2 linked regions of the Homo sapiens genome follow. Changing the gene in region 1 together with any one later gene gives a genetic interaction. Each region holds a gene or a part of one and is shown on either strand. Other genes may lie near its edges. The genes, in order: FARSB and CTNNBL1.

What was found.
Region 2: changes in FARSB (region 1) and CTNNBL1 together harm fitness less than expected from each alone (positive genetic interaction), as found in Homo sapiens cells (one large-scale study listed by BioGRID).

What each region holds. Positions count from the first base shown.
Region 1 is NC_000002.12:222,646,003-222,649,825, forward strand, and holds part of FARSB (phenylalanine--tRNA ligase beta subunit), read right to left. Parts: intron 2,794-3,823; coding exon 2,738-2,793; intron 2,124-2,737; exon of another isoform or gene 1,839-2,123; intron 995-1,838; exon of another isoform or gene 799-994; intron 345-798; exon of another isoform or gene 1-344.
Region 2 is NC_000020.11:37,773,855-37,777,677, forward strand, and holds part of CTNNBL1 (beta-catenin-like protein 1), read left to right. Parts: intron 1-3,490; coding exon 3,491-3,563; intron 3,564-3,799; coding exon 3,800-3,823. UniProt on the Homo sapiens protein: Component of the PRP19-CDC5L complex that forms an integral part of the spliceosome and is required for activating pre-mRNA splicing.

The sequences.
Region 1 (3,823 bases):
AAAAGTACAGAGAAGAGATCTATCATTCAAATTATAAAAGGAAACCTCATTCATTTCACAGTCTAAAAAAATGCCAATCTTACTAGGTGTTACTTTTGGCAGCAGAATAATTTCCTTATGGCCCAATACAATATAATTATTCCGACTAGATTACCAAATTCTCCATAATCCATCCTGTACTAAAATTGGTTGACTCTTCCTCCTTGTGGGAGGAGAGTCACTACAGACACCAAGAATCCATTCAGGCATGTCTTTAACTTCTACTTCCCGGTACTGCCTGCCACAATTTTATCCCTTAGAACCCAGAACAGCTGGGAGCAGATAAAATCTTCTTGGGTTATGAGGTAAGTTTTGTGTTGTATTTCCATATCGCACAGTTTTTCTATCTTCTGAGACTATAAGTTTACGATGTGCTGCTTCAGGATCTAGAATTACATCTACTTGAAATCGCTTGATAATTTTGTTTTGGCCACAATATTGTGGAGACAGATGGTAACCATATTCTTTTAATTTGAATAAAAAAGGTTTAGGGAATTTTAAATTCTTATGTCTGTGATAGATATCCTTAACATCAGCCAGTAATTCCAGTTCTGACTTCACATATATGCTCTCTATCTTCTTTAGTAGATATTTTAATGAGGAGGTATAATCTGAAAATTTTGTTAGGCTTTCATTTAGTTGTGCTAAAATATCCATCTCGTCATCTTGTAATTGCCCAAAAACAGTCTCTTGCTCATTTTGCAGAAATAACCTAAGTTGCTCAAATTCAGACTTGACTTCTTCTGCCGTATGTTTTACCTTTTTCTTCAGTTCCAGTGATTTTCTGGTTTGTATAGTTATGACTTTTTCAATTAGTTCCACTCTCTCCTTCCACGGTGCATTGTATTGCTCCAGTTTTTTCCTGATAGGAGGCAGCCTTCTTTATGGGCCAAACACAGCGATGCTGGTGATCAGTGGACAAACTGCACCTTGGACATAAAAGCTCTAGGTCTTTCTGAGAGAAGAAAGTCAAAACCTGATTATGCTTCTTACACACATGCTTCTCTTCCTGCCTCTTCCTCTTGCTTCTTAGCTGGAGTTGCTTAGCAATTTCAGTCAAACTACCCAGCTGGGGATTGCTTATAAATTTCCTTTCTGGACAGCACAAGTGGCAAAAGGGGCAGGGGAAACTATCATCTAGATCCTTCCAGGACATAATGATGCAGGAGAGACAGAAGTTATGCCCACAGCTGATGGTCACTGGGTCTTTCAAGTAGTCCAGACAGATGGGACAGCTAGCCTCTGCTCGGAGGTCAGCCAGGGCTGTCACAAATTCTACGGAGCCTGGAACAAAGATGGTAGGTAAGGTAATTCTTTTATTTTAGCAAGGCCTAGCTCTCTAGAGCTCAAGACCCACTATGCAGTGGATTCCTCCCCAGACCTTGAAATCTGACCAGCTTTCAGTTTTACTGACTTGGCATGTTGATGGCAGCTTCTAGAAACTTGTTAAGCCCTCAGCTCCTTAGCTTCAGACTTCACAGCCTGCAGCCTATTGCATATTAGAACTTATTAGCTGGGCTGCTGCTCTTCCCACTAAATGAAATAAAGTCAAGTTTTCTTCAAGAAAGCAGCCTCAGGTCCAAGATAAGGACTCCTTCCTGTAATCCCAGCTACTCAGGAGGCTGAGGCAGGAGAATCGCCTGAACCCAAGAGGAGGAGGTTGTGGTGAGCCAAGATCGCGCTGTCGCACTCCAGCCTGGGCAACAGAGTGAAACTATATAAAGCACATTGGGCCAGGCATGGTGGCTCACACCTGTAATCTCAGCACTTTGGGAGGCCAAAGCAGTGGATCACTTGAGGTCAGCAGTTCGAGAACCAGCCTGGCCAACATGGTAAAACCTCGTCTCTCCTTGCATTATAATCACCTGGAGGGCTTGGTAAAAGGTTGCTTGGGCCACATCCCCAGTTTCTGGTTCAGTAGGGCTGGTTTTTTCCTAAGTTCCCAGATGATGCTGCTGGCCTGCGGACTGTACTTTGTGAACTTATGCTGGAGCAGATGGATCAGAAACCCCGGCCAGAGGATGCTCAGGACCCATCAAGCCCCCGCGAGGAAGGACTCAGACCCCCAACCCCACCAAATTAAAGTATGTCTTTAATAGATAATCATTATTAACAATATTAAAATGTATAGCCGACTTGATTTTTTTAAATATTGTAATCATTATACAATCAAAAGTCAAAGAAAATGCTTCCTCATTTTTATAAGCAAGTCCTTAAAAAATATTAGTTCATTTTACAAGACCAATGAATATAGTAATGCATTAGTACTGGTTGAAGAGGCACGGAGGAAGGTTATGGGGGCAGAGGAGCTGAAGGAGGAGGCGCTGGAAGTGAAGGAGGCAGGGTAACTCTGGTTGAAGCAACATTTCTACTGCTTCTTGGTCCCTTTCTGTGATTAATTTGCCAAAGGAGGGAGCTTACTTTCATACTGGGGTTATCTAACACATTCTATCCATTTCCACAGCATGAGCCTGGTAACAAGGTGATTGTAGATGGAATAAGGCATGAACTCCTTTTGAGATTTTAGTCAAGGCAACAGACAGACATGGAGCTTAGCCCTCTGAACACAGAAATCATGGCCCACAAACATTATCACCTTAGTCTAACTATAAGGTAACAAAGATGAAATACAGTATAACCCTGAAAAATAAGCTTATGCACACAATCTTTGAAAAATAGACAAATATCCAATACATACAATTTCATCAAGCTCCAGACCAAATTCAAAACATAGTTCATCAAATTCTTCGTCAGCTAGGAAAATAAAAAAGGAGATGGTTAATTTCACTCTGTTCAGTATAAGTGAAAACTACATACAAACTGCATTTTCTTATTACTAATTGCCTTACACCAATCATACTACTAAATATCAGGCATCACATATTATCATTTAAAAACAAACAGGCCAGGCATGGTGGCTCATGCCTGTAATCCCAGCACTTTGGGAGGCCAATGTGTGTGGATCATCTGAGGTCAGGAGTTTGAAACCAGCCTGGCCAACACGGTGAAACCCTGTCTCTACTAAAAATACAAAATTAGCCAGGCATGGTGGCGCATGCCTGTAATCCCAGCTACTTGGGAGGCTGAGGCAGGAGAATTGCTTGAACCTGGGAGGCAGAGGTTGCAGTGAGCCGAGATCATGACATTGCACTCCAGCCTGGCTGACAAGAGCGAGACTCCGTCTCAAAAAATTAAAAAAAAAAAAAAAAAAAAAAAAAGCTGGGCCAAAAAAATTTAAGATAAAAAAAAGAAAAAACTATTAAAGGCTTGATTAATCTACACTAATATCAACTGTAGTTTAGGTTACCTGCACTGGGAAGTTTGCATGTACACAGAAGAAAAACACCTGTTCACCTGTTAAGTAGAGATCAGATATAAAGTAGGCTCCAAATCACAGATCTCACACAACAGAATGTCACATAAGTCCTATCAGGTAAAATGGTCTGAGGTGGCCTGACACTTTTGGCTTTGAAGCCAAGTCAATCAGAGTTTGAATTCTATCCCACTTATTAGATCTGAGAGTTTGGCACCTTATGTAAACTTTCTTGGTATCTTGTGTCAACATTACAGCTGCCTCATCTATAAAATGGTATTTCACAGCCATTATGGCATGGTACTATTGGAAAGATTTAAATGCTAATGCATAAAATGGACCTGGCATAGTACCCTGAGACACAGTGAGTCTACAATAATTAATAGTTTATTAGCAATTAATAAAATAAGTTCTCTTCCTTATTTTAATATTATATCCTACTGTTTAGCTTTTCAGGGTTCTCACATTACC
Region 2 (3,823 bases), on another chromosome or scaffold:
TCTAGAACCTTCTTCTTTCTTTCCTGTCTTTTTCTTCTTTTTCTTTCTTTCTCTCTTTTTTTTTTTTTTTTTTTTTTTGAGGCAGGGTCTCATGCTGTTGGCCAGGCCAGAGTGTTGGTGCCATCACTACTCACTGCAGCCTTAACCTCCCAGGCTCAAGTGATTTTCCAACCTCAGCCTCCCAAGTAGCTGGGACTTCAGGTGCACACCACCACACCCAGCTAATGTTTGTAGTTTTTTGTAGAGATGAGGTCTCACTATGTTGCCCAGGCTGGTCTTGAACTCCTGGGGTCAAGTGATCCTCCCGCCTCAGCTTCCCAAAGTGCTGGGAGTACAGGTGTGAGCCACTGCGCCTGGCCACATACATTATTTCTAATCCTCACAAACAGCCCTGCCAAGAGGGTGCAGCTATCCCCAATTTACAGATAAAGAAATCCCAGAGAGAGAGGAAATGGTGTTGCCCAAACCACATGGGAACCACGTGAGAGAGCCTGTGAGCATTGGGCCTTGGCATCTTTGAAGCCACCTCCTCTTGCCAAGCTGCTTCTCAGCTGGCACTGCTTTTAGGTTCTGAAGCATTGCAGAGCTCAGCGTTGGGGAGTTATCGGGCCTCATCATTTTGGTTTCCTGATTAGATTCTTCCTTCATGCCAATTTCTCAGTCAGAACTTATATTTTAATTTAAAAATGATGAAGTTATCAGTCTGGTTTTTAAAAACTTACTTTGGTTAAATTGGAAACTCTTAGTAGTGTCTTACAGCAAAAGGTGGAGATTTCCTGTGGAACCAAGAATTCTCAGTAGCAAGAAACTCAGCTGGTCGGTGCCTGTTATGTATACACCAGTTCCCTTAGTACAGCCACTTCATGAGGAAGATATTAATTTGGCCAGTCTCATAGCTGGTAACTGTTAGAGCTCAGATTCTAATGCAGATATTTCTGGTTATGGTTGTCAGAAAAACTTGTGGTACCTACTGTGTGTTAGGTACTTTCATATTATGTTTTTAAATTCTCATAGTAACTCTCCAAATAAGTGGGATTTTTTTTCTATTTCTTTTTTCTTTTTTTCATGTCAGTGCCCTTAATCAAAAAAGTGCTATTTTTTATTTTCATTTTACAGATGAGGAAACTGAGACTGAGAATGTTTCTTGGGTCATAGATTCCCATTGTCAGCTTACAGCATTCTTAGTGTCTCAGTAATTCTGTTTTTACAGCACCGCTATGCCAAAAAGTACCTAATAGTCTCATTTATTAAGTAGTTATGTCCAAACCATTTAATATATATTTATGTCCTTACAATTTATTAGCCATTTGAGAAGATAATACACACAAATTGAAAGAAAAAATATTTTTATTTCATTCTTAAATATCATAGTTACTTCCTAATGGTATGTGTGCCTTTTGGTACTGCTCAAATCCTTAAACCTTAGGATCAGATTGAACGCTACGACCATCATTCTGATTTCACATCGATTTTCACAGTTATTTTTGTCAGAGCAGCTATCCAAACGCAGCTCCACAAAGATATGATGTCACCAGAAGAAATGTAACTTGAGCTCCTGGTTAATGCAGTGTTCAACAGATGTCACATTTCACTGTGTTCTCCTTGAAAATTTAACATATCCTGTGGTGAATTAAATATGACACCCCAGTTGCCACAGCGCAAAGTTGGAGAACTGCAGATTTGAGTCAACCTTAGGTGTGTCTAATGCCAGATCTGTGTTTTATTTTCCTTTTTTAAAATTTGATATTTCTACAAAATTAATTTTAATTCAGTGTAAGGTTTTTAAATGCCACAACAGTGGACAGAGTTCAGATCTAAGTTACCCCTGTTTGTTCTCTTGCTTAATTCTGTGTCTTCCCTATAGCAGGTGCCTAATAAGTATTTATTGAAAGGAAGAAAAACTCCCCCCAACTTGAAAACAGGAGCTTACAAAATTGAATAAAGGACAAGAGGCATTAGATCCACAGAAAGGCCATGGCTCTAGTGACCTACTGTCTTTTGGCTTCTTTCAGTTAAGTGTCTTGTTTTAAACAAGAACCATGGCCCTTGCAATGCTAATGTATAAGTTGGTGTGGCTTAAATCTTTTAAAATATAATAGCAGTACTTGGAACTTACATAATTTGAGTGGGAAATTTTATTCGCAAATCCTTGATTTTGATAGAGATGCTTACTCCTTGGCTTTTCACCTTCATGTTTTGATTTTCGTTAATATGAAACCATTTTTCTTAAAGTGAAACATACCACAGGTTGCATTTAAGCCCTGACTATTATGCTGAATTTCTTGAAACAAGGCTTCAAGCTCGCCCAGGGAGCATACCTTACATTTAGCACATGTAAGACCTTGCATTTATAGATCTTTTAACCTAAGATGGTCATACTTGGTTGACCTCCTGAAACCCTGTAGGCTGCACTTAGCTTGATGAGGAAGACGTGCACAGAAAACTGAAATGATACTGAATATTGCTTGATTAGGTACAACTCTTCCTCTTTAAGTATAAAACCAATATCTAAACAGATCTGTGAATGGCGGTAAGGTGACGGAAGTGTTAGTTCCAAGATAAACACTTCCCTTGTCTTTTCCAAGTACAGAAATTCTTTGTCATTTCAAAAACACAGATAGGTAGCAAAGGTTGCTGCTGATTAATAATCATTGTTTACATGCCTGCATTTTAAGGATCATGGGCACCATAAATAAAAACACACCACTGAGACTCGCTCCTCTCTATGCACCTTTATCCAGGGGGCAGTGATAATGGTGAGATATTTAAGTCTCACTACCGAAGCAACACTGAGGACAGCCATGAAAGATAGTCTGTGCAGTAGATGTGTCCCCTCTGAAACTCCCAAATAGCAGAGCATGCAGCGGGGAAAGAATTGTGGGTAGTAATTTGGGTGTTAAAATATTAACACATTTTTGCATATTTAATGTGGTTTCTGTTTTAAGTAGTAGGCAGATTATGGCATGCAAGCAGATAAGTTTATGATTTCAAATTAAATTTTAAGCATTAAAAAAATCCAGAAGGAACTACTTTGTGATAAATACATTCAGTTAATCAAGAATTGCTTTCTTCTCTGCTCATATATTAACTAATTTATAGCCTAATTTCATGATTGTAACTTGTGAATTAAGCTTCATGGTGAGTTTTAATCTTAAAAGTTCAAAACTCTCATTCATCTAGTTCACATTTGGGTACTATGGGCTAGACATATATAATCTCTGGACTCAAAATGGGAAATCTTGGAAGTCTTCACCGAGGAGGTAACCTTAATACCTGGGCATTAAGAGTGTGAGAGCCATTGTTTCAATCTGTCACTTTACTTGGTTCTGGTCTCTTGAGAGCAGAGGCAGACGTTTTTACCCTTAACTGCCTTTTCCTTTTCTAACTTCTGCTTCTCTCTAACTCAGATCATAGTACTCGTGAAAAATTTGTCCTGGGGAAGGAAGCAAGACCCCTTAACATTTTTCTCATTTCTCCTATTTCCCCATAGGCAAAGATGCCTTTTGATGCCAACAAACTGTATTGCAGTGAAGTGCTGGCCATATTGCTCCAGGACAATGATGGTGAGGCGCCCTCTCAGTATTGATATTCTGTTAGGATAGGAGCCAGGCTTGTTTCAGATCATGACAGCAAGCTCTCTTGCCTTTGGCATCCCCTTGCTCTCCCTCTCACTCCCTGTGCTGCTTTTGTACTCTGTCAAGCTGTATTGATTTTGTTTGCTGATGTATCAGTGTTAGACGGCTGTAAAATCTGACAGTTAGGTTCATTTTTTTTCTTCCTCTATTTTTTTCCCCTTTAGAAAACAGGGAATTGCTTGGGGAGC